Linked DNA regions of Homo sapiens. The protein of the gene in region 6 purifies or fractionates together with the protein of the main gene of each other region. This does not show direct contact. Each region holds a gene or a part of one and is shown on either strand. Other genes may lie near its edges. The genes, in order: RBM27, PRP4K, RBM28, TRIM56, RBBP6, DHX8 and POLR1B.

Evidence for each region.
Region 1: the proteins of DHX8 (region 6) and RBM27 purify together in Homo sapiens (co-immunoprecipitation; one large-scale study listed by IntAct). This does not show direct contact.
Region 2: the proteins of DHX8 (region 6) and PRP4K purify together in Homo sapiens (co-immunoprecipitation; one large-scale study listed by IntAct). This does not show direct contact.
Region 3: the proteins of DHX8 (region 6) and RBM28 purify together in Homo sapiens (affinity purification with mass spectrometry, with the first as the bait; one large-scale study listed by BioGRID). This does not show direct contact.
Region 4: the proteins of DHX8 (region 6) and TRIM56 purify together in Homo sapiens (co-immunoprecipitation; one large-scale study listed by IntAct). This does not show direct contact.
Region 5: the proteins of DHX8 (region 6) and RBBP6 purify together in Homo sapiens (co-immunoprecipitation; one large-scale study listed by IntAct). This does not show direct contact.
Region 7: the proteins of DHX8 (region 6) and POLR1B fractionate together in Homo sapiens (co-fractionation; one large-scale study listed by BioGRID). This does not show direct contact.

Annotation. Positions count from the first base shown.
Region 1 is NC_000005.10:146,227,605-146,231,104, forward strand, and holds part of RBM27 (RNA-binding protein 27), read left to right. Parts: intron 1-1,341; coding exon 1,342-1,433; intron 1,434-2,112; coding exon 2,113-2,306; intron 2,307-3,052; coding exon 3,053-3,313; intron 3,314-3,500. Other genes in the region: RBM27-POU4F3, read left to right, coding at 1,342-1,433, 2,113-2,306, 3,053-3,313. UniProt on the Homo sapiens protein: May be involved in the turnover of nuclear polyadenylated (pA+) RNA.
Region 2 is NC_000006.12:4,031,300-4,034,799, reverse strand, and holds part of PRP4K (serine/threonine-protein kinase PRP4 homolog), read right to left. Parts: intron 3,242-3,500; coding exon 2,045-3,241; intron 1-2,044. UniProt on the Homo sapiens protein: Serine/threonine kinase involved in spliceosomal assembly as well as mitosis and signaling regulation. Connects chromatin mediated regulation of transcription and pre-mRNA splicing.
Region 3 is NC_000007.14:128,337,409-128,340,908, reverse strand, and holds part of RBM28 (RNA-binding protein 28), read left to right. Parts: intron 1-1,117; coding exon 1,118-1,276; intron 1,277-1,587; coding exon 1,588-1,682; intron 1,683-2,107; coding exon 2,108-2,183; intron 2,184-2,566; coding exon 2,567-2,659; intron 2,660-3,500. UniProt on the Homo sapiens protein: Nucleolar component of the spliceosomal ribonucleoprotein complexes.
Region 4 is NC_000007.14:101,095,481-101,098,467, reverse strand, and holds the end of TRIM56 (E3 ubiquitin-protein ligase TRIM56), read right to left. Parts: 3' UTR 501-2,987; downstream 1-500.
Region 5 is NC_000016.10:24,563,566-24,567,065, forward strand, and holds part of RBBP6 (E3 ubiquitin-protein ligase RBBP6), read left to right. Parts: intron 1-44; coding exon 45-99; intron 100-1,231; coding exon 1,232-1,300; intron 1,301-3,500. UniProt on the Homo sapiens protein: E3 ubiquitin-protein ligase which promotes ubiquitination of YBX1, leading to its degradation by the proteasome.
Region 6 is NC_000017.11:43,486,975-43,490,474, forward strand, and holds part of DHX8 (ATP-dependent RNA helicase DHX8), read left to right. Parts: intron 1-2,474; coding exon 2,475-2,560; intron 2,561-3,416; coding exon 3,417-3,489; intron 3,490-3,500.
Region 7 is NC_000002.12:112,552,465-112,555,964, reverse strand, and holds part of POLR1B (DNA-directed RNA polymerase I subunit RPA2), read right to left. Parts: intron 3,321-3,500; coding exon 3,149-3,320; intron 2,427-3,148; exon of another isoform or gene 2,275-2,426; intron 1,442-2,274; exon of another isoform or gene 1,386-1,441; intron 1-1,385. UniProt on the Homo sapiens protein: Catalytic core component of RNA polymerase I (Pol I), a DNA-dependent RNA polymerase which synthesizes ribosomal RNA precursors using the four ribonucleoside triphosphates as substrates.

The DNA.
Region 1 (3,500 bases), on a different chromosome or scaffold from region 6:
TATATATTCGGTTTGAGATAAACTTGTTCAAAGACAATAATAAAAATTACTGGTTCTCCAGGAGGCAGAGGTTGCTGTGAGCTGAGATAGCGCCACTGCACTCCAACGTGGGCGACAGAGTGAGACTCGGTCTCCAAAAAACAAAAGAATAAAATAAAAAAATAAAAATTACTGTTCTCTTTGTATTTCTGGTCAATTTTGACGGTTAGGCTTTAAGAGAAAGCCTTAACATTTCCATTAGTTCCAATACCATTTTTCCATAGTTTACATGAATTACTTAGTTTTATAGCATTCATTGATTTAACCATTTTTTCCTAAAACGTTTCCTATGGAATAAATCTGAAGAGCTACTCAAATGAATTATGTATGTATATATATTTCATAATGAGGAAAACATAACCGTTTTACTCTATGGTACTTAAGAGATTTGCTGTTTTAATTTGAAGAATGAATTGTTTATACTTTTCCTACACTACCATTCCCTACTTTAACATTAAAAAATTAACAAACTGCTTGTTGAAGTAATCTGAGCATCTTTTTTATTTCTGCTGTTGCCTGACTCTTTTGGCTATGAATTGACTTTATTTTTTCAGTGTATTTACTCGTGCCCTCTCTTGCGCCAGAAATATTATCAGGTAGATGGACATGTTTCATAATTTATAGAGGGACCATTCTTTCTTTTTTTTTTTTTTTTTTTTGAGACAAAGTCTCGTGTTGCCCAGGCTGGAGCGCAGTGGCGTGATCTCGGCTCACTGCAACCTCTGCCTCCTGGGTTCAAATGATTCTCCTGCCTCAGCCTCCCGAGTAGCTGGGACTACAGGCACGTGCCACCACACGTGGCTAATTTTTGTATTTTTAGTCGAGACAGGGTTTCACCATGTTGGCCATGCTGGTCTCAAACTCCTGACCTCAAGTGATCTGCCCGCCCCGGCCACCCAAAGTGCTGGGATTATAGGTGTGAATCACTGCGCCCGGCCGAGAGGGACCATTCTTATTTTGTTTTTTGTTTGTTTTTGAGAAAGGTCTCACTCTGTCATCCAGCCTGTGGTGCAGTGGTGTGATCATGGCTTAATGCAGCCTCAAACTTCTGGGTTCAAGCAGTCCTCCCATATTGGCCTCCTGAGTAGCTGGGACTACATACAGGTGCATCCCACCATGCCCAGCTAACTTATTTTATTTATTATTTTTAGTAGAGATGGAGTCTCCCTGTGTTTCCCAGGCTGGTCTCAATATCCTGGCCTCAAGCAGTCTTCCCACCTGGACCTCGTAAAATGTTGGGATTACAGGTGTGAGCCACCGTGCCTGGCCCTGCTCTTACTTCTACTCAATATTTTCATATAGGTATTTCAGGAGCCAGCAGAGGAAGAACGAGATGGCAGAAAAAAGAAATATCCTAGTCCCCAGAAGACTCGTTCAGAATCTAGTGAACGAAGGTTTGTGTTTATCTTTAATTAGGAAGACATTGATAACTCACTTTTTAGTTGCCTTGCAAGGACATTAAAGGGATTTTTAATATATATACTTACTCCTCTCTCTGTAAACTCATTAAAGAAAGATGTTACCTTTCTTCCTTTCATTCTTTCTGTTTTTTGTCTTTTGTCTTACTTTCTGTTCCTTTTATAAACAGTCATTATTATGTGTTTTCCCCAAGAGCTCAGGGGTGGGAGCAGTCCCCTTAGAGAATATTAATGAAATGTTCCATTTGGTTAGGGGTGCTTAGTATTAAAATCATCCAAGTCATTTTTTTATGACAAGTAGTACAACTTGTATATTGAATCATCAGCCTAACATCAAAAATTGGTCTTTGTTTAGGAACACTTTTTTTTGAGCCTTTTTTCTTTTCTATTTCAAATTTTCTGTTTTCCCCTGCCCACCCCTCCCCATACTTTGGATTCACCTCTTTTTTTCATTTCTCCCCACCCAGTATAATTGCAGGAGGGATGTTTTTTCTCTGTATATATTTGATTAGAGGAATTATGTGGTAGATTTGCAACTTTCTAAAAAAGCATAGATATGCATTTGGATGACTCAAGAGTAGTATTTATACTATAGATTTGTTTGCAGACTTGGTTTCTATAGCCTGCATATGGCTTTTATATCTGTATATTATAGGACACGTGAGAAAAAAAGAGAAGACGGGAAATGGAGAGACTATGACCGGTACTATGAGCGGAATGAATTGTACCGTGAGAAGTATGACTGGAGAAGAGGCAGGAGTAAGAGTCGGAGTAAGAGTCGAGGCCTGAGTCGCAGTAGAAGCCGAAGTAGGGGGCGCAGCAAAGACCGGGATCCAAATAGGAATGTTGGTGAGTAGATGAGTGTCCCCCTAAAAACTCTGTAGTTATTTATCTGTCTCTATCACAGGGGTGCAAGAAATTCTCTTAAAGTTGTACCTTTAATATGTCTGAGCAGTGTAAAAACTGGAATTGTCTCAAGAAGCTCAATATCCATTTTGTTAGAAAACAGGGCTCTATTCTGGGGATGGAGTCAAGGGAGTTTGATTAAAAAGGAGCTATTCAAGTGTATCATTGTACATGTCTAGACTTAACTCATTTTGTATAATGGATACAAATATCCTTTAATCAATAAAGCTATCACGTGAGGAAGAGGGTTGCCTGCTTTTCTTCTTTGTTTGGTTTTCTAAAAGTAATTGATTTGCTGTAAGGGTGCTTGAAGTTTATAAAATTAAATGGATAAAATAAGTAGATTATTGGGATCCCAACCACTCATCTTCTGAGATACAAGTTTGGAAGTCAGTTCTTAGATAACCTTCTTATTAAATATCTGTGGAGAAGCTGACTCTTTTTCAGTTAAGTGTAACTGATGTTGATACTATAAAAGATGATTTTGCACAAGTTCTTGCCCAAGATATGTCACTTGTTGATGTCCCTGCTTTTAGGATATATTAATAAAGAGAGGAGTATGAAATATGGATAGCTAGATAAGTTTAATTCAACATTCTCATGTTTTCTATGTGAGAAAATAAATATAGTTTAAGAACATGAAATATCTGATCTCTTTGTTTTCTGTTTTTAATTTTGTCTCCAAGTAGAGCACAGGGAAAGATCGAAGTTTAAGAGTGAAAGGAATGACCTGGAGAGTTCCTATGTGCCTGTGTCTGCACCACCTCCAAACTCTTCTGAGCAGTATTCCTCTGGGGCACAGTCTATTCCCAGCACTGTTACTGTGATCGCACCTGCTCACCACTCTGAAAACACAACTGAGAGTTGGTCTAATTACTATAACAATCATAGCTCTTCCAATTCTTTTGGTCGAAACCTACCACCAAAGAGGCGATGCAGAGATTATGATGGTAAAAATCACCACCTTTTCTCATATTGTGCCCAAAAGTACTAGCAGAGCAAATGTTGCATATATTGCATATCTTTTAGTTATAGTCCAGTTTATTTTATTTTATCTTATTTTATTTATTTTGAGACAGAGTCTTGCTCTGTCACCCAGGATGGAGTGCAGTGGCTCGATCTTGGCTCGCTGCAACC
Region 2 (3,500 bases), on a different chromosome or scaffold from region 6:
CAGAGGTTGCAGTGAGCCGAGACCACGCCACTGCACTCCAGCCTGGCAACAGAGCAAGACCCCATCTCAAAAAATAAAATAAAATAAAATAAATAAATAAAAATAAAGAAAATAAAAATGTTCACCCTCACTAGTCACCTAAGAAATTTCGATTAAAACAATTTTTGGGTTTTTTGTTCTGTTTTTAAGAGTGACAAAATACTATATGGTATCCTGGTAATAAAGGTTTTCCTAAACTTTCCTAATACAGTTTCAGGAAAAGGGGCAGTTCACATAGTCATAGAAGTAGAAGTAGAAATTGACCTAACTTTCCTGGATGGAAATTTAGCAATAACTTTCTACAATGTAAATGTACATACTCTGAGACTTTGCAAGTCCACTTCTATGAGTCTATTCTATAAAGAAACCTCACATATAACCAAGGCACATCTTCGCATATAATAGTGAAAAACTGGAACCAACCTAAATTTTTCATCAGTTTCAATAGGAGAATGATACTATAATACATCTACACTGAAATACCAGTTGCTGTCAGGCAGAATGAAAAACAATCTATATGTTTTGTCGCAGAAATGTTTCCTGAAAAAAGCAAGCCACATGTGAATATGAATAATATGACTCCAGTTTTGTTAAAAAAAAAAATTCCCTTATATTCATGTTATTGTCTGTACAAGGAAAGACCTAAGATAAAGTAAATTTCTAAGGAGTGGTAGTGGAGAAATGAAAAGGGAGACAATTTACAGGCTTATTTGGATTTCTCTTTAATAAGTAAGTATGCATCACTTCTGTAATTTAAAAAAATATTTTTGTTTCAAATACTCAGCTCTAGTCCTTAATAAACTCCTCAGAATTTGCTCTTCAAACAAAGCAAACTGAAAGACCACCAAGATAATTAAGAAGCACTTGAGATAACAGAATCAGTAAAACTAATCACTGCCTCAATCCAGGAAGCCAAAGGAAAAAGGGGCTATTTCATTACAGTGCCACTCAGAAGTAAAGAATCAAGACGCTCTTAAGACACAGCACTTGGAAATAAAATTTGAAATTTCTCTGAAAATATGATGACTTCACTTTCAGGGTGAGTTTATATTTATACCCATTCACAGAAAATATTATTATGAACACAGTAAACGGCTAGGAATTAATAACATCCTTATATAGTATAAGCCAATACTCTTTTAATAAGCAAAACCTAGCTGGCAATTTCATAATACTTAAATACTAAATACAAAAAAGACATTAAGAAATCTGTTTCTAAAGTAGTTTAAGTGGTATAAACACTCCTCCCCGCAAATACTTCCGTTCTATGATCCTACGTAAATTATATACATTCTCTGATTCTATTTCATTTATAAATTAGGTATGAGAGCCCCTTCACCTCATGAGTTAAGATAATCACATGAGGATTTATAAGAACTAAGACAATATATTATTCAAATAGTACAAAATAATTTCATATACTATTCTTCTTAAGCTTAAGAGATACTACTTTTCAACAATGAGATTATATGTATTAATACAAAATTTTCCATTTTAATTATACTTTGGGGACCAAAAAATATTGGTATTGGTTTCTATTTATACTGTTAAAATTTAAAACTCATGCAAATACAAGAGAATGAACAGAACACAATTGTTAAACTGATTACCTTTCCCCCTTTTCAAAGTTAAGAGTTTCAGCCTACACTGTTCATGAAGTAATAATCCTCTCTCTAAACGCCCCCAATGAAGATTTATCAGCCAAATTACATGGATTGAAAGGAGTGCCTTAGCAAACTAGGTATTAAATCAAGAATGTGAAAAAACCCAATTCTATCATCAAGCTCAGTATTTGTTAAACACCTATACTTAAAATACTCATCGAAAAAAGTGCAAATATTAACATGGTTAATGGATTGGGTTACTTAAAATTATGAAACTCATTACTACTTCATTTATTTTTATTTTTACTTACTACTTCATTTTTAATGGTCCACAAGTTCTAGTTTTCCGTTTAAAATCTCATGCACTGGTAAAAAGCTTTAACATTTTGTACACAAGTTACCTTGGAGAAGAAAGTCGTCTCCTCTCTGGTTCTCGTCGTTTTCTTTCTAAGGATCGGCTCTTGGCTCTTCTCCCAGGAGACAGTGTCCGCGAGGGGGATTTGCTCTGCTTAGATCTTCTATCATTCAAAAGTGGAGACCTGCTTCTTCTTGATTTATCACGTGGTTTTGGAGACAAACTTCTTCTTTTAGGACTACGACCAGGTCTTCTGCTGGGTGACCTATTTTCTTTCCCAGATGAAGCATCTTTAGAGGGAGATTTAATTGGCTTCTTTTCTTTATCAGTTTCAGACCGTTTTGATTTTCTCTCTTTGGACCGTGACCTTCTGTCTTTGGATTTACCTCTTAAATCAACTGGGGATCTGGATTTTTTACCTCGATCGCGACTTCTACTTTCATTTATAATTGGGGATTTTTTCCTATCTTTTGATTTACTTTTATCTTCAATTTTAACCTTATCATCAGTAGGAGATCTGGCCTTACCAATTTTCTCTTGAGATCGCCTTCTAAGGGTAGGGGATTTTGATTTCCTTGCTTGATCTTGAGACTTACTTCTTTTGGATGGGCTTTTAGATTTTTTCCTCTCCTTTGACTTGCTCCTAGTTGTTTTCTCTTTAACGATTTCAATACCCCCCTTACTTTTCTTTTTATCAGACCTATGTCTAGTCCGTTCTTTGGATCTGCTTTTACTTCGTTTCTTTGTAGTAATTTTATTGTCCACAAGTTCAAGTTTCCCCTTTGTACTTGAAGATCTAGTACTAGACCTATTTCCATTTCTTGCCTTTTCATGAATTTCCCCCTCTTCTTCAGAGCCAGACTCATAACCTTGCAAAATGAGCCCCATACCAGACTGGACCTTTCCTTCCATTAACTCATTATCAAGTTCGGCCTTAATCAAGGCTCTCTGTTTTTCCAAGTCTTCTAGCAAAGCTAAATCATCAAGTTTAGTTCTTTTTGCTGGAGACATACCCTCTTTATCAGAAGCATCAATAATCTCTTTTCTTTTGTGTTTCTTATGTTTATGCTTATGTTTATGTTTTTTATCCTTGTCTTCTTCTGAGGAATGTTTATGTTTCTTATGTTTACTTCTGTGTTTATGCTTCTTTTTTTTGTGACGACTGTGCTTATTTTGAGACTGGTCTTCTGATACTTCTCCATTTTCTTCATTTATACTCTTTTCAGAATTAGCATCTTCCATCCTATAAATATATCAAACACATTTTAAAATCATATCATTTATCAAGTATTCAAAGAGCCATAAGAAAATAACAGTAATGAGAAAATACATCTCAATGTAATACATGAAGTCAGTCACTAAAATTTTTTCAGAACAGCTTCAGACATTTTATTTCAAAGAAGGTCTACGGCAAGAACTGAGTTGGATAGTGATACAACTTTATTGTGTTTCTAATGGTTGAACTCACCAAAAGTATTAGAGGAAATCCCTAATGGAGTGAG
Region 3 (3,500 bases), on a different chromosome or scaffold from region 6:
ACCCTGTGTGACATTAACCAATTCACTTACTGTCTTCCATCTCAAATTACTTACTTGGAAAGAAGGGGTGATAATATTTGCTTTACCTATTTTGAGGTGTTCTAAAGATAAAATGAGACAAGAATGCACAGCTGCTTTGGAAAGGTTTAATTTGATATCGACAGCTAAGGCGTTGGTAATAGTGGTCATAACATCTGCAGTCTCTCTGAGCAGTATTTATTGTTTGAGGTTCTTTTGTCTGGGCCTCAGGCATTTATTGCTGATCTATTTTGAGGAGTAACTGCATTATTGTGTTCTGATTTTTGAAGCTACCATACTGTCTTAATTCATTTTCTGTTGCTTATAAGAGAATACCTGAAACTAGGTACTTTGTAAAGAAAAATTTATTTCTTAAGTTCTGGAGGCTGAGAAGTCCAAAGTTTAGTGGCTGTATCTGGTGAGAGCCTTCTTGTTGGTGGGGACTCTGCAAAATGCCCAGACAGTGCAGGGTGTCATGGCGAGGGGGCTGAGCATGCTAATGTGCTTGCTCAGGTCTCTCTTCCTCTTCTTATAAAGCCCCCAGCTCCACTCTCATGATAGCCCATTAATCTATTAACCCATTAATCCATAAATTGATTAATCCATTCCTGAAGACAGAGTCCTCTGATCCAGTCACCTCTTAAAGACTCCACCTTTCAATACTGCTACATTGGGGATTAAGTTTCCAACACATGAAATTTGGGGGACACATTCAAACCATAGCATATACTTACCTTTCCTGCCTTCTTTGGTGATGTTTTGTTCTTTTTGATGTTGAGTTCTTTGAGGGCCTCATATGTCATGGATTCTCTGTTTTCTTGGGATTATCAAGAAAGGGGGAAGAAGGGGAGCTAACAGCAAAGACACTAAATTAAAAGAGGAGGAAGGCTAACAGTTTCTAAGCAAAGTGGGGAGGGAACCACTGATACCACCCTTGTTTCTCGCCCTCCTGAGACTTTTGGCAAACTGATAGCAAGATGGGTTGGCAGTATATCCTCTAGCTTAGGCTTTGAGGATTTACTCATTTAGTGCTCTTGGCTTATGATTCTCTCTCCTTTTCACACTGCCCCTCCACTCCCTCCCCACTCCATTATTCCAGGGAGTAAGGCATGTCGAGGCTTTGGCTATGTCACTTTTTCAATGCTGGAAGATGTTCAGAGGGCCCTCAAGGAGATTACCACCTTTGAAGGTTGCAAGATCAACGTGACTGTTGCCAAGAAAAAACTGAGGAACAAGACAAAGGAAAAGGGGAAAAATGGTGAGTTTCTAGTAATTGAAGGAAGTTTTTCTCCCAGGGTGAGGAGGAGCACTATGAAAATGAAAGAGGGAGGCATGGAGGTAGCTTCTAGAACTTAAAGCTTTTTGCATTTCTTTTTGATCTCCAAAATCATCCAGTGTATTGTGATACTCATTTTAGTTCTTTGGAAAAATCTGGTATTCCTTGGTATTATTGCCACACTTAACCCTGTGGTAAATGCCATCTGTCGCCAGTAGCTTTTTTTTCTGTGATGTTCTGGCGTAGAAGTGGGTGATTTTCGAGTACTTATTCCATTACCTCTTATTTTTTAGAAAACTCAGAGTGCCCAAAGAAGGAGCCGAAGGCTAAAAAAGCCAAAGTGGCAGATAAGAAAGCCAGATTAATTATTCGGAACCTGAGCTTTAAGGTAAGTGAGAGAGAAAATGAACATTGCATGTTTTGAAGGCTTTTAGAGCCAAGATGTGATCATTAGTAGAACTCCTCACCAAGATGGTATAATTGGGCTTAATTCCTTCTGGGAATCAACCTTACCCCTGTTGAATTCAGAAAGTGGGCCTGTGTAATAAGGGCACTAAGTGTGAAGCTGCTTTCCTTTTTGGGGAAACTACTACTGAGAAAGAAAAGGTAGAAAAAGTTCTCAGACGTCTGTGTTTTTGCCTCTTAGGTACAAAGTAAAATGTCTTCTATTTAGAAACATTTGATGTCCTAGTATCAAAAATAAAAAAAAGTAAACATTCATGTTTTTCATAATTAATGAATTTAGTAGTTGATGTTTTATGTTAATTTGCTGTGATTGTGTTTCTCTTTTTCTTTCTTCACTTTTGGCTTCAGTGTTCAGAAGATGACTTGAAGACAGTATTTGCTCAATTTGGAGCTGTCCTGGAAGTAAATATCCCTAGGAAACCAGGTACTAATAAACCTTCACTTGGTGTGGATTACGTTAGTTAACATATTACCCTTGAACAAACATATATGATATATATGAAGTATTTGGCACAGTGCTTCACATCTAATGAAAACCCAAATAATGGTTTTATTCCCCTGATGATATTTTCTGTTGGATCAGAATTAGTTTTAGAAGGCGAGTTAGTTTGAGAAAGTGTTTTGCTCTCCCCAAGTCCAAGTCAGAGTATACTCAGTAAGAAGATGTAAGCAATTGCTTTGGGGAAGGGCCTGACCTGCTGGCAGAATTTGGGCCATCTTGTGGGCCTGAATTGCAGTAATTTACTTCTTAGTATTCTGGCTACCTCCTGCTGCCTCTCACTTCTTTCTTTGTGCATTTGCACACAGATGGGAAGATGCGCGGTTTTGGTTTTGTTCAGTTCAAAAACCTCCTAGAAGCAGGTAAAGCTCTCAAAGGCATGAACATGAAAGAGATAAAAGGTAAGCTTTCTATACCCATATCATTGACCCAGATATTTCTGGTGTTTTGGTGAATTAGTGTAGTAACCCACTTTCTGCATTTTCAAAAGATGTTTGCATTATTAAGAGTCTCATTGCTAATACGGTAGCTATTTAGGTGAAATACTCTAGAACTTGATCTTGGGGTTAAACTTGAAAGAACCCTTGCCAGTATTCTTTCTTTTATCTGGTGAGAGTGTCCTTTTAAATCCCTAGTGAAAAATGTCCCTGAGATAATTGCTGATAGATGCAGGTTGGTATCTAGATTCCTCCTTGGTTATATCACTGTTCAGCATCTGTGGGCTATTTATTAAACTGACTGTGATTTATATATTGACTTATCAAGTACTGTGCCTAAAGAAGTTATTGCCGGCCAGGTGCGGTGGCTCACACCTGTAATCCTAGCACTTTGGGAGGCCGAGGAGGCAGGTGGATCACCTGAGGTCAGGAGTTCAAGACCAGCCTGGTCAACATGGCGAAACCCCGTCTCTACTGAAAATACAAAAATTAGCCAGGTGTGGTGGTGCATGCTTGTAATCCCAGCTACTCAAGAGGCTGAGGCAGGAGAATCGCTTGAACCTGGAGGCGGAGGTTGCAGTGAACTGAGATGGCACCACTGCACTCCAGCCTGGGCGACAGAGCGAGACTGTGTCTCAAAAAAAAAAAAAAGAAGTTATTGCCGTAGAGATGTCCTAGCTTCCAGGTAGGGTGCAGATGATTCCAGAATGCCTGTTTTGATTCCTGATAGTCTAACTGGAAACATAGTTCTAATTCTTTATTTTTTTACTCCATCTTATCCCAGGTGTGGTGGCTATGTAGAAAG
Region 4 (2,987 bases), on a different chromosome or scaffold from region 6:
CCAGCATGGGCCAGATCACCTACTGGTTCCCACCCAGAAGGTGCATGCTTCTGCAATGTCCCCAAGGAATCTGTGTGGCCACCCTGGGAGCTACCTACCATTGGGTGGCTTTGATGACCTGATTTCCTTCACTATCTGGGCCTGGTTGTTAAAGGTTCCCTGTATCCAGCCGGGTGCAGTGGCTCACGCCTGTAATCCCAGCACTTTGGGAGGCTGAGGCGGGTGGATCACTTGAGGTCAGGAGTTCTAGACCAGCCTGGTCAACATGGTGAAACCCCGTCTCTACCAAAAGTACAAAAATTAGCCAGGCGTGTTGGCTTGTGCCTATAATCCCAGCTACTCAAGAGGCTGAGGCAGGAGAATTGCTTGAACCTGGGAGGTGGAGGTTGTAGTGAGCCAAGATCGTGCCACTGCACTCCAGCCTGGACGACAAGAGCGAAACTCCGTCTCAAAAAAAAAAAAAAAGGTTCCCCGTATCCATAAACCCTTCTGAGAAAAGGTTCCAATTTTTCAAAAGAACTTTATTAAGAAACAGAGGAAAGATACAAAATTCCCATCTGAGAAAGGTTCCCATTTTTCAAAAGAACTTTATTAAGAAACACAGAAAAGATACAAAATCCATAACCAAAGGAACTGAAGAGTTTACAGCACACTGGGTTTAGCCCATGGCAATGTAGAGAAATGGGCTGGGCTGGCGCTCAGTCACTAGGCACCGACGTCCTGATTCCTCGTCTTTGACCCAGTGTCCCTTGGTTGCTAAGTCAACCAGTTCTAACTTTCTCTGGAGACAAGTCAGGCTGCCCTCCCAAACCTCCTTCCTAATGTCTTTATACACAGGCCCTCTTCCATCTGGTCCCTAAGATTTCTCACCCAGCACCTCAGGTGAGATCTAGTCTGATGTTGCTGTACTTTGTATACTGCTCCAATCACAGGAGTCTGCAGTTTCTAGAAAATCTATTTTTGCTCCTGTCCTGATCCATTTCATAAACTGCATTCACAATCCAGTTGGGTAGTCTAATTTTGCTACCTTTGGTCAAGTTACCTACTTTCCCAAGTCTGCATCTGAACTTGGTCTTTCTCCTGCTAACAACGTATTCCTAGGTACTCTCTCTGGCAGTTCTCTGCCCCAGTTCATCCAAGACCTTCTCCCCAATACAGAAGTCCGCACCCCTTTCCAATCTCCCACTTAATTTATGGGATAGCCCTAGTTCTCTGCTTACCTTTCAAGGAGAGACAATCAGAGACCTTGATCTTGGCACTCGCCTGTTCAACCCTGCCCAGCTCAGGTCAGCAACCTCATCGGTTTCCTTGCAAAACTTTTGACTTCTGCCTTGGACTTTCGCCCCTTAGAATTTTATTTCTGCAGATTTAGAATATGGCATTGCTTTATAGATACCGTAATAATAAGGCTAAAATAGAAGGAGAGCTACTCCCTTTCCAAATGATATTTTCTCTAAACTCTCAAAAGATTGGGCCACTCTTGCCATTTTTCACTTTTTCTAAATGTCTACTCTTATGGGTCCTTAACTAATACGGTCTGATTCTTAGCTGGCTTTTAAGAATGGCATTACATTTCAGCAAGCTGGCCATTGGTCCCTTCTATTCCTGAAGTCACTGTTGTGACTTCAGATAAGGCTTCTTCAAGTAACTGCTGGAAAGCAAAACAAAATGGTCTCCTCTGAAGGAGAAGCTGATTTGCAGAAAGCTCTACTCGGGTGTTCCAGAGCTTTCACTCACAACACATGTACCTAACATCCTCATACACGCTTATGCTGATGGAGGGGTATCAGGTGGGTACAAGTCAGTTGAAACTTTTCCTAACCAACACCTTGTATTTGAGCTTTATGGTGTCCGAAATACTTCTCTACATTTCTCATCCAGTCCTCACAGCAGCTCTGTGAAGTGGGCATGTGGATGTCATTATCCCAATGTTACTGATGTACAAACTGAGGCTCAGAGAGGTTAAGGCACTAGACCAAGATCACACAGCTGTTTAGTGCAGAGCCAACACTCAACCCAGGTCTCTGCTCCCTCATTCTCTTCCCATTTCTTGACACCAAGAATACGAAAGAGGTTTTCTACTTCCCTCTTCCCTACCCAAACAGGATTTTCTTTTCACTGGTCCATCCACGCACAACCTAGTCAGTTCCGAACAGGAAAAGGAACAATTTATCAAGTTAATTGTCACAATCCCAGGTGTGGTGCAGTGGGCTGGGGTAAAACATTTTGCTGTATCTTTCATGATGTTCCTGATTTCTCTCTTTTTTTTTTTTCTTTTTGAGACAGGGTCTCACTCTGTTGCCCAGGCTGGAGTGCAGTGGTACGATCTCAGCTCGCTGCAACCCCTGCCTCCCGGGCTCAAGCGATTCTCCCACCTCAGCCTCCTGAGTAGCTGGGATTACAGGCATGTGCCACCACGCCTGGCTAATTTTTGTATTTTTAGTAGAGATGGGGGTTTCACCATGTTGGCTAGGCTGGTCTCGAACTCCTGACCTCAGGTCATCCACCCGCCTCAGCCTCCCTAAGTGCTGTGATTACAAGCGTGTTCCTGGTCTCTTTGTATCTGCGATATAACTGGGAACTCTGCCTTAGTCCTGAGCAGGGCTTTCTATCAGGTCCCCAGGCCACTCAGTTACGGTGTTGGAGATTTTACCTCCAAATTATGCTCAATGCAACACTTCCCATCCATGCTTCTCATTTTCCAGTGTCCTTTGCTGCTCTCGCCCCCCTCACCTCTTTACGAAGAAAACTTAATATTTCCCTCCATCTTACAATGCCCTGTGGATTCTTACAGCTTCCCGAGAAGCCACTTGGCATCCCCATCTCTAGGGCGCCTGTGGGACTATCTTCTTGCAGCCAGGTGACGTTTCATTTCTGAAGGTTTCTATTGTTTTGCCCCCTGGGTGGGCCACGTGGCTAGAATCATTTCACCAGCCAGGACCACTGCCCATGGCTCCCATGCAACTCCGGAGAGCTGCTGTTTCCAC
Region 5 (3,500 bases), on a different chromosome or scaffold from region 6:
GTGCAATTTTGTATTTACCTACTGCTTTTATTTTTTGTTTCTAGGTCCAGTAAGAATAAATACTGCTCGTCCAGGTGGTGGTCGACCAGGCTGGGAACAGTGAGTAGATGTTTACAATAATCTTCAGATGATTGCCTGCAAACTAGATAATGGAAGGTCCAAACTAGGCAAACTAGATAATGGAAGGTCCAAACTAGGCAGCGGGTCGCTGCTCTTTATTGTAAACTTTCATGTGCCAGATTAACATTTTTTATGTAAAATGTCAAAATTCAAGCTTATATGAGGGTTTTTTTTAAATGAGCAAATCTTTTCTAAAATACAAAATTTTAAAAGTTTTTTTCTACTTTCATATCCAACAAATGGGGATCTTGACAGGACTTCAGTTTAATGAATAGATAAGAATTACTTGAAAAGTTATTTTAAATATGGTGGCAGTTATTTTCCTAGTAGGTTTAACTTTTTCTACCCTTAATTTGGATGATCAAAGTTTGATTTGAGTACATAAATACATAATAAGATTAACGTCTACCAAACAAAAATTTTTTGTCTGAAATCGAGTTGTTCTTGCCACCCTAAAATACAAAGAACTTTGATTTTCTCTGTGGGATATTTTATGGCATTAAAAATCAGCAGACTTACTTAATGTATTTTTAGTTATATAATTATTTCTGTTTATATAATCCGATTGAAAATTGATATATTCTTAAAAGTATGAGTTACTAGCAGGATGTATCAGTAGAAGGAACATAGGATTTAGAAACAGGTAGACTTGGGTTTGAATCCCATCTCCTTCATTTCCTAGCTGCATGACAGTGGTCTTGTGGTTTTACTCCCTAACATCCATTTCCTCGTTTGGATTTGGAATGACACTACCTACCTTAACATGTAAAATGACTTCATTGTGCCCAGCAGACAAAAGGGCTCTTTTCCTTGTATATAACAATAAGTTCACAGAGTAATTTATAGAGTGCTAATTAAAATATAATATTACATAAAGTAATCTATTTTGAGGTCTAGTTATTGTTATGATACAGTTAATTGGTGGGGGAAAGTTAGTTTTAAGTAAATATAATATTTACTCAGCTCTGTATCCGAAACAAATTTAAGAACTGGGGAGTAGGAAAAAGTTTTCAGAGTAGTTAAAATTGGTGTCTTAACAGCTATGCATGGAAAGGTCATGTATTATACCCATGGAGAAATACTTGAGCCTATTTTTTTTTCTCCCACACAGTTCCAACAAACTTGGCTATCTGGTTTCTCCACCACAACAAATTAGAAGAGGGGAGAGGAGCTGCTACAGGTAGGCATGCTAAAAATCTTGGAAAATAATCATCTTATTTTTTATATATATATCTCACCAAAGAAATTAAAGCACAGCAGTGGCAGGAAGGAAGGGGGTCATTTGTTTGTATTGTGCTTATCCCTCTTAAGTCCTGGGTAGTTGTCCTTAAAGAGGGCTAGAAAAGAATAAATTATATATAGTATCTTAAATGATGGTTTTTAAGACATTTTTAATATTCCTTCCCAGTGATTACTTTCTCCCTGTCAGCAAACAGCAGAGTATTGGCTTGCATTTACCCTCTTGGAAGTAGAAGAAAGTCAGGGGTCAGACAATATCTAAGATACCAGTTTAATTTAAGATTAAAGTTAACAAGCTCAGCTCCCAACTGTGAACAAGAATTGCAACTATTTCTCTTCTAGACCCCACTGTCCCAATCATCTCCCACCGTCTCTTTTCCAAAAGAAGAGACAGGAGATTGTTAGAGGCTCCTGCCCTAGTGGGCGGGTACAAGCAATATTAATCTAAGAAGTAAGAATCTTACTGTCTAGGTCAGGGGTCCCCAACCCTGGGCCACAGACCAGTATCCATCCTTGGCCTGTTAGGAACTGGGCAACACAGCAGGAGGTGAACAGCAGCTGAGCGAGCATTACCACCTGAGCTCCACCTCTTGTCAGATCAGCAGTGGCATTAAGATTCTCATAGGAGCATGAACCCTGTTGTGAACTGCGTGTGCAAAGGATCTGGGTTGCACGCTTCTTAGGAGAATCTAATGCCTGATCATCTAAGGTGGAACAGTTTTTACCCCCCTGCCCCCGTCCATGGAAAAATTGTCTTCCACAAAACAGCTCCCTGGTGCCAAAACGGTTGAGAACTGCTAGTCTAGGTCATAATCACCACCAGGATAAAGGAGCCTCCAAAACTTCATAACAAGAGTTTTGGCCAGGCATAATGGCTCATGCTGGTAATTTTAGAGCTTTGGGAGGCTGATGGGGGAGGATTGCTTGAGGCCTGAAGTTCAAGATTAGCCTGGGCAACATAGCAAGACTCTGTCTCTACCAAAAAAATAAAATAACCAGACATGGTGGCATGCACCTGTGGTCCCAGCTACCTGGGAGGCTGAGGCAGGAGGATCACTTGAGCTTAGGAAGTCAAGGCTGCAGTGAGCTATAACCACATCACTGCACTTTAGCCTAGGGGACAGAGTGAGACCCTGTCTCCAAAAAGAAGGAAATTCGGGATATCTTCTAGTGCTTCATTGCTAAACTTATGAAAGTTTACTATGTCATTACTGGATCACATTTTAAAAGAAGGTAATAGTTATTCATGGCTCACTGAAAAGATGCTTAAAATCTAAACCCCTACTGTTGCTGTTGTGTACCAATTATTTATAATTTAAAGCACCTCTAGTTTAACAGAAGTAACCAGTTCTGTTTGGTGAGGCACAAATTAGAAACTTAGCCAACACTGTTATTTTTACTTAAGCTTTTGAGAGAAAGCGTTGATATTTTCATTGTTAATTATAGAAGTTAAAACTAGAATTTATTCTGCTTTGTATGATCTTTACCCACTTCCTCCCTCAAAAAAGAGGTTACAGGAGTTGGTTTTCCTTCATTTAAACTTTTGGGGCCAGGTGTGGTGGCTCTCACCTGTAACCCCAGCACTTTGTGCAGATCACCTGAGGTCAGGAGTTTGAGAACAGCCTGCCCAACATGGTGAAACCCTGTCTCTCCTAAAAATACAAAAATTAGCTGGGCATGGTGGCACACGTCTCTAGTCCCAGCTACTTGGGAAGCTGAGGCAGGAGAATTCGCTTGAACCCAGGAGGTGGAGGTTGCAGTGAGCCAAGATTACACCACTGTAGTCCAGCCTGGACGACAGAGTGAGACTCTGTCTCAAAAAATAAAAAATAAATGAATAAGTAAGCTTTTGGGGAGAGCTAGGTCATAGCAGCATTAACCTGTCAGTGCCTTCAAAAGACAGTTTAGGAAGTAACAGGTAGTAATTAGTGGAGTGATAATCAGTCTGAACTTCATAAAAGAGAACTTTTAAATACAATATTTCCGTGTAGAGAAGGTCCTATAAACTTGCATCATCTCAGTCGAGACATGGCCTTAAAAATTATGTTGTAGAGTTATTTTTACAAATAAATTGTACTAATGTTGCTACACTAGTTGAATAGTTGGTTCTATTCCACTGTTTTTAAGTTTGAAAATAATTA
Region 6 (3,500 bases):
GGGACTTAGTTCTCCCTCCACATTTCTTGAAAGAATGTAGCCTCTGAAGTTAGATTGCCTGGGTTTTATTCCTAGCTCCCCCCAGTTATTATTGGGTAGGTCAGTGTCTCAAACCGTCAGCTTCCTCATTGTAAAACATGACAATAATAGCACCTACTTATGAGGGTTGTTTTGGGGATCATGAAGTAACCCATAAAAAGCACTTAGCATAGTGCCTGGCACGTAGTAATGTTCAAAAAGTATTAACCATTGACATTATCGTTACTAACTTATTATGCATAAGATGTGTTCGTGTAGCCTGATGGCATTTGGCTTTCACTTTATCAGAAAGATAAAGGCACATTCCAGGATGGAAATTGTATGGTAGTACTACTTTATGAGTTAGTCATCTAGATCTTTCATGTTATTTATTCATTTACTTTTCTAGGATTAGCATTCAAATGAAAGCATTACAGTTTTTTTGTGGGTCTCATAGTATGAGGCTTATTATCTCAGTCTACTCCCGAGTAGCTAGGACTACAGATGCATACCACCACCCCCGGCTGATTTTTGTATTTTTTGTAGAGATGGTGTTTTGCCATGTTGCCCAGGCTGGTCTTTAACTCCTGGGCTCGAGCAATCTGCCCACCACAACCTCCCAAAGTGCTGGCATTACAGGCGTGAGCCACTGTCTGAAAGTAGCTTAATAAATAGCTCTAATATTAGAAGTTTCAAGAACTAGGCCGGGCACAGTGGCTCATGCCTGTAATCCCAGCACTTCGGGAGGCTGAGGCAGTAGGATTACCTGAGGTCAGGAGTTCAAGACCAGCCTGGCCAATGTGGCAAAACCCCGTCTCTACTAAAACTACAAAAATTAGCCAGGCGTGGTGGAGGGCACCTGTAATCCCAGCTACTTAGGAGGCTGAGACAAGAGAATTGCTTGAACCCGAGAGGCGGAGGTTGCAATGAGCCAAGATCGTACCACTGTACTCCAGCCTGAGAGACAGAGTGAGACTGTTAAAAAAAAATGAAAAAATAAAAAAAGTCCAGGTGCGGTGGCTCATGACTGTAATCCCAGAACTTTGGGAGGCCGAGGCAGGCAAATCACAAGGTCGTGGGTTCGAGACCAGCCTGGCCAATATGGTGAAATCCTGTCTGTACTAAAAATATAAAAATTAGCCGGTCATGGTGGCATGCGCCTGTAGCCCCAGCTACTTGGGAGGCTGAGGCAGAAGAATCGCTTAAACTCAGGGGGCAGAGGTGGCAGTGAGCCAAGATCCCGCCACTGCACTCCAGCCTGGGCGACAGAGCGAGACTCCGTCTCAAAAAAAAGAAAAAAAAAAGAAAAAAAGAAAGTTTCAAGAACTAGGCAGGTGTGCCGGGCACAGTGGCTTATGCCTGTAATCCCAGCACTTTGGGAAGCTGAGGCGGGTGGATCACAAGGTCAGGAGATCAAGACCATCCTGGCTAACATGGTGAAACCCTGTCTCTGCTAAAAATACAAAAAATTAGCCAGGCGTGGTGGTGGGCGCCTGTAGTCCCAGCTACTCGGGAGGCTGAGGCAGGAGAATGGCGTGAACCCGGGAGGTGGAGGTTGCAGTGAGCCGATATCGCACCGCTGCACTCCAGCCTGGGCGACAGAGCCAGACTCTGTCTTAAAAAAAAAAAAAAGAAGAACTAGGCAGGTTTGTGGAGAAAAATTTGGCAAAAAAGTCTTTCATCAATGTGGAGATTGCACCACCCAGCAGCTGCCTGGCCCTCATATACAGATTGGGTCTGTCCTTCTGTTGTGTGCCTCTGTGTGTCTACATGGGCTCATGCTTTTTATTGTCACCTTTACAGTCTAGTCTAGGTGGCAGCGTGCCCAGGTAGTGGTTTTGTGAGAAGAGGGTACCATGATGTGGGTCAAATAGGTCTTCCTAGTTTAAATGCACTCAAGGGCTACATTGAGCCATTTTGTAGTAATATCTTCCTTTCATTTGTATAAATTCTCTAGAATATGTGTGGATAATTTCAGCAGTCTAGATTTTCTCTCTTGTTTTCTTGTTTTGTTTTTTTTGTTTTTTTTTGAGACGGAGTCTCACTCTGTTGCCCAGGCTGGAGTGCAGTGGCGCAATGCCGGCTTACTGCAACCTCTGCCTCCCGGGTTCAAGTGATTCTCCTGCCTCAGTCTCCCAAGTAGCTGGGATTACAGGTGCCTGCCACCACACCCAGCTAATTTTTGTATTTTTAATAGAGACGGGGTTTCACTGTGTTAGCCAGGCTCATCTTGAACTCCTAACCTCAAGTGATCCGCCTGCCTTGGCCTCCCAGAGTGTTGGGATTACAGGCATGAGCCACCACACCTGGCCAGATTTTCTCTCTTTACCCTTACCAGATGGTGGTCTTTGTTTTTTATTACTGTTGGATAACCTAATTAGTTTTGTTTTCACCATACTTGAAACTGATTTCTTGTTCATGTCTCTTCTTTTCTGAATTCTGTTTCTTATTTGCAGCTGAATTTGTGATCAGTCTTGCTGAGAAAAATACCACCTTTGATACTTTTAAGGCTTCTCTCGTCAAAAATGGTGCAGAATTTACGGTATGTATATGTGGAGAAGATAATCTGTAGATATTAATGTTTTAATTTATGTTTGTTTGTTTGTTTTTTTTTTTGAGACAGAGTTTTGCTCTGTCGCCTGGGCTGGAGTGCAGTGGCGCCACCTCAGCTCACTGCAAGCTCCGCCTCCCGGGTTCACGCCATTCTCTTGCCTCAGTCTCCCAAGTAGCTGGGACTACAGGTGCCTGCCACCATGCCCGGCTAATTTTTTGTATTTTTAGTAGAGATGGGGTTTCACCGTGTTAGCCAGGATGGTCTCGATCTCCTGACCTCGTGATCCACCCGCCTCGGCCTTCCAAAGTGCTGGGATTACATAATTTATGTTTTAATGTCACTATTGATTTTAAATTTTGATAGGGTTTAATATAGGATTTTGATATAGGAAGGAGACAATTTTATACATATCAATTAAATAAGCCATTAAGTGTGTAATGTTTTCATGCCATTAAGTAGTGATGATTTAACCAGATTTTCTGTGATACCTCTAGGAAAACAGGGCAGGATTTTCATCATTAAGTCTTTGTAGGTATTTACATTCTTGTTCTGTGAGTCAGGAAGTTGGAAACAAGTTTTGGGGGTAGTTCTAAACCTTGGGAAATAAAATGGTTGCAGGGAGCCTAATAACTTTTCTCCCCAAAGAGTCCTAAATATCGGCTTTCTCTGAAGCTATTATACTAGGTTCATGCTACACCAGGTTGACACACTATGTTTCATGTATTCCAATTAGCTAAATTCAAGTGCGTAACCACCCTTCCCTACAGGACATTCTTTGCCTTTTAAGTGTATTTAAGCACTGATATGGGAGCTGACAATTTTCGTTCTATGTTTCTTTTCAAAGGATTCTCTTATTAGTAACTTGCTGCGTCTCATACAAACCATGCGGCCTCCAGCGAAGCCTTCCACTAGCAAAGGTAAGCAGAGC
Region 7 (3,500 bases), on a different chromosome or scaffold from region 6:
TTATGGTTAATCTACAATAATACAGAAAATATGGTTGCTATTTTTCAATTTTATATTGCTTATTTCAATGTAAATACAATGTGAATTTTTAACAGTCTATAATTCATCTTATGTCATGGTTATGTATCTTCTGAAGATTGTTTTTATGCTCCAAACTCAAAGGTTTAAAAGCTTTAACGTAGCTGGTAAGGAAATCAGATACTCGGCAATGAATTCTCTGAAAAAGCCCCAATTTTCCCTTGGTTTCTCTTGTTGCTGACACAGGTCACCTTAGTAACGCCTTGCTACAGAAGACTCATTTCTTTTTTCTGTTGAGACAGGGTCTTGCTCTGTCACTTAGGCTGGAGTGCACTGGCGTGATCACAGCACACTGCATCCTCCGCCGCCTGGGCTCAGGCAATCCTCTTACCTCAGCCTGCTGAGTAGCTGGGACCACAGGTGTGGCCCACCAGGCCTGGCTAAATTTTTTTAAAATTATTTGTAGAGACGAAGTTTTGTCTCTGGGCTGTTTGCCCAGATTGATCTCAAACTCCTGGGCTCAAGTGATCCTCCCACCCCGGCCTCCCAAAGTGCTGGGATTACAGGTGTGAGCCACCGCACCAGGTGTTTTTTTCTTTTTTCTTTTTGAGATAAGGTCTTGCTCTTTTGCCCAGGCTAGAGTGCAGTGGCAAAATCACCCCTTATTGCAGCCTTGACCTCCTGGGCTCAGGGATCCCACCTCAGCCTCCCAAGTGGCTGGGACCACAGTCATGTACCACCATGCCCAGCTAACAGGTTTTTTTTGGAGACAGGGTCTTGCTCTGTCGCCCAGGCTGGAGTGCAGTGGCGTGATCTCAACTCACTGTAACCTCCGTCTCCCAGGCTCATGCAACTCTCCTACCTCAGCCTCCTGAGTAGCTGGAATTGCTGCAGCATGCCAGCATGCCCAGCTAATTTTTATATTTTTTGTAGAGACAGGGTTTTGCAATGTTGCCCAGGCTAGTCTTGAACTCCTGAGATCAGAAGATCCACCCACCTTGGCATCTCAAAGTGCTGGGATTATAGGCGTGAGCCACCACACCCAGCCACTGCTAATAGTTTTTATTATTTCTGTAGCGATCTCTCTGTGCTGTCCAGGCTGGTCTCAAACTCCTTGGGCTCAAGTTACCCTTCTGCCTCAGCCTCCCAAAGTGCTGGGATTACAGGCATGAGCCACTGTACTCCTGGTCTCATTTCTTTTTCTTTTCTTTTTTTTCCTAATTAGGAATTGATGTGGAATAAAGACACATTTATAAGTGTGGAATACAATGAGCCCACCATGCTTCACTTTAAGTAGATGGGAAATGTAAATTAACCTTTACTTGAAAGGTTAATTTAATAACATTAAATTAATAAGAGAAAACTTACGCTGCCTGCTTTCAATTTTTGTCAGGAAAATTGTAGGCTGCTGAAATTTTTCAATCTAATTTTATGGACAGAGCAAACAGAAACAAAGATTATTACCTTTCGGGAAGAATGTAAATAAGAATTACTACCTAGATAAGAAATTAGAAGGCCGGGTGTGGTAGCTCACGCCTGTAATCCTAGCACTTTGGGAGGCCAAGGTGGGTGGCTCACTTGAGGTCAGGAGTTCGAGACCAGCCTGGCCAACATGGTGAAATCCCGTCTCTACTAAAAATAAAAAAATTCGCCGGGCATGGTGGCACGCGCCTGTAATCCTAGATACCCGGGAGGCTGAGGCAGGAGAATTGTTTGAACCCGGGAGGTGGAGGTTGCAGTGAGCTGAGATCGTAGCACTGCACTCCAGCCTGGGAGACAGAGCAAGACTCTGTCTCAAAATAAAATAAAATAAATTAGAAGCCAGGCACAGTGGCTCACACCTGTAATCCCAGCACTTTGGGAGGCTGAGGCAGGTGGATCACCTGAGGTCAGGAGTTCGAGACCAGCCTGGCTGAAATGGTGAAACCCCACCTCTACTAAAAATATATTAACTCTTAGATTACATCTTTTTGAGGATAAGATGCAAAATATAAAATGCCACTGAATCAATATTCTTATGAAATCATTTTTGTGCCATGCCAACTTTCTCTCTATATACATCTACAGTCAAATTTCACTACTCACAGTAGCTATGTTCTAATGAACACTGAATTAACACATATAAAACCACTACTCCTGGGGAAAAATACAGGGCTGGGTTCCTGCAAGTCTCTGGTCATAACATTCTGGTCAACGGATCAATATACAATCTTGTTTAATGTCAGCTTTTGTTGAAAGGCACCTTATTTAACATACCTTGTTAATTCATTAACACTGAACACTAGACAGCGCTTCAGTGCTATGCTTGGGGACCATTATAAACAGCAAAAACTGGCCAGGCTCAGTGGCTCATGTCTCCAATCCTATCACTTTGGGAGGCTGAAACAGGAGGATCACATGAGCCCAGGAGTTTGAGACCAGCCTGTACAACATAGTGGGACCCTGTTTCTACAAAAAAAATTAAAAATTAGCCGGGTGTGGTGGTGAATGTCTATAGTCCCAGCTGCTCAGGAGGCTGAGGTGGGAGGATTGCTTGAGCCTGGGAGGTTGAGGCTGAGACCCTGTCTCAAAAAAAAACAAAAAAGTCACCAATAAGAAGCACGACAATGTGAAAAACATAGCACCAAATGCACCTCAAAAAGGACCCTCTTTATAGTATGAGCTGAAACCGGAAAGCAGAGCATCGCCCTGCCCCGCCTCAGCTGTAACATTTGCCTCAGGAGACCCAAATTCTTCACTGCTCTGCTCATGTATGTGAATAATCATGAAAGCACTGAGCACTGACATTAGGGTTACAAATAAATTTTAGCCAGTGAGTGAATTCACAAATACAGAATCTACAAATAATGAGGATCAACCATATGTATAAATACAGGCCATTTGCTTTTTATCATTAACACTGTGACCAAGATTTGATGTGATCTTTACATAAAAATATTAAGCAAATTTCCAAACCTGGTGTAAGCCAGGATTTCTGATCCCCTTACTGCTAAATGAACAAACAAAAAAGAGACCACACAAAATGCCAAAACTAGAAACTATAAACATGCAGAAAACAGTGCTGCTGGACAAAGTCACGCCATTCCACAAGTGGTACCACTGGCCAAGGGTGGACATAGCATGCATTTACCTTCAGGAACATAAGGAAGAGCTGACCCGGTGTGAGGACTTCCTGGTTCACCAAACTATCAGGATTGTCCTCCATGCACTCTCCTTTGGCTAAAGCAAAGAGCTTTCGCGTCATGAGACAAAGCATATAAAACTTTTCAGTATTGGATTTCAAGTGGATACAGATGCACTGGCTGTGAAAACAGAAAAAAAAAAAAGCTTAAAACAATTCAGTTGGTAATACTACTTAATATTCTATTAACCAAGATCCCCAACTCATGCTTACTTAACTTTAATTAAATAAAATTAAGCATTCAGTTTTTGAGCTACACTGGCCACATTTGAAGTGCTTATCATGTGACTGGTGGCTATGC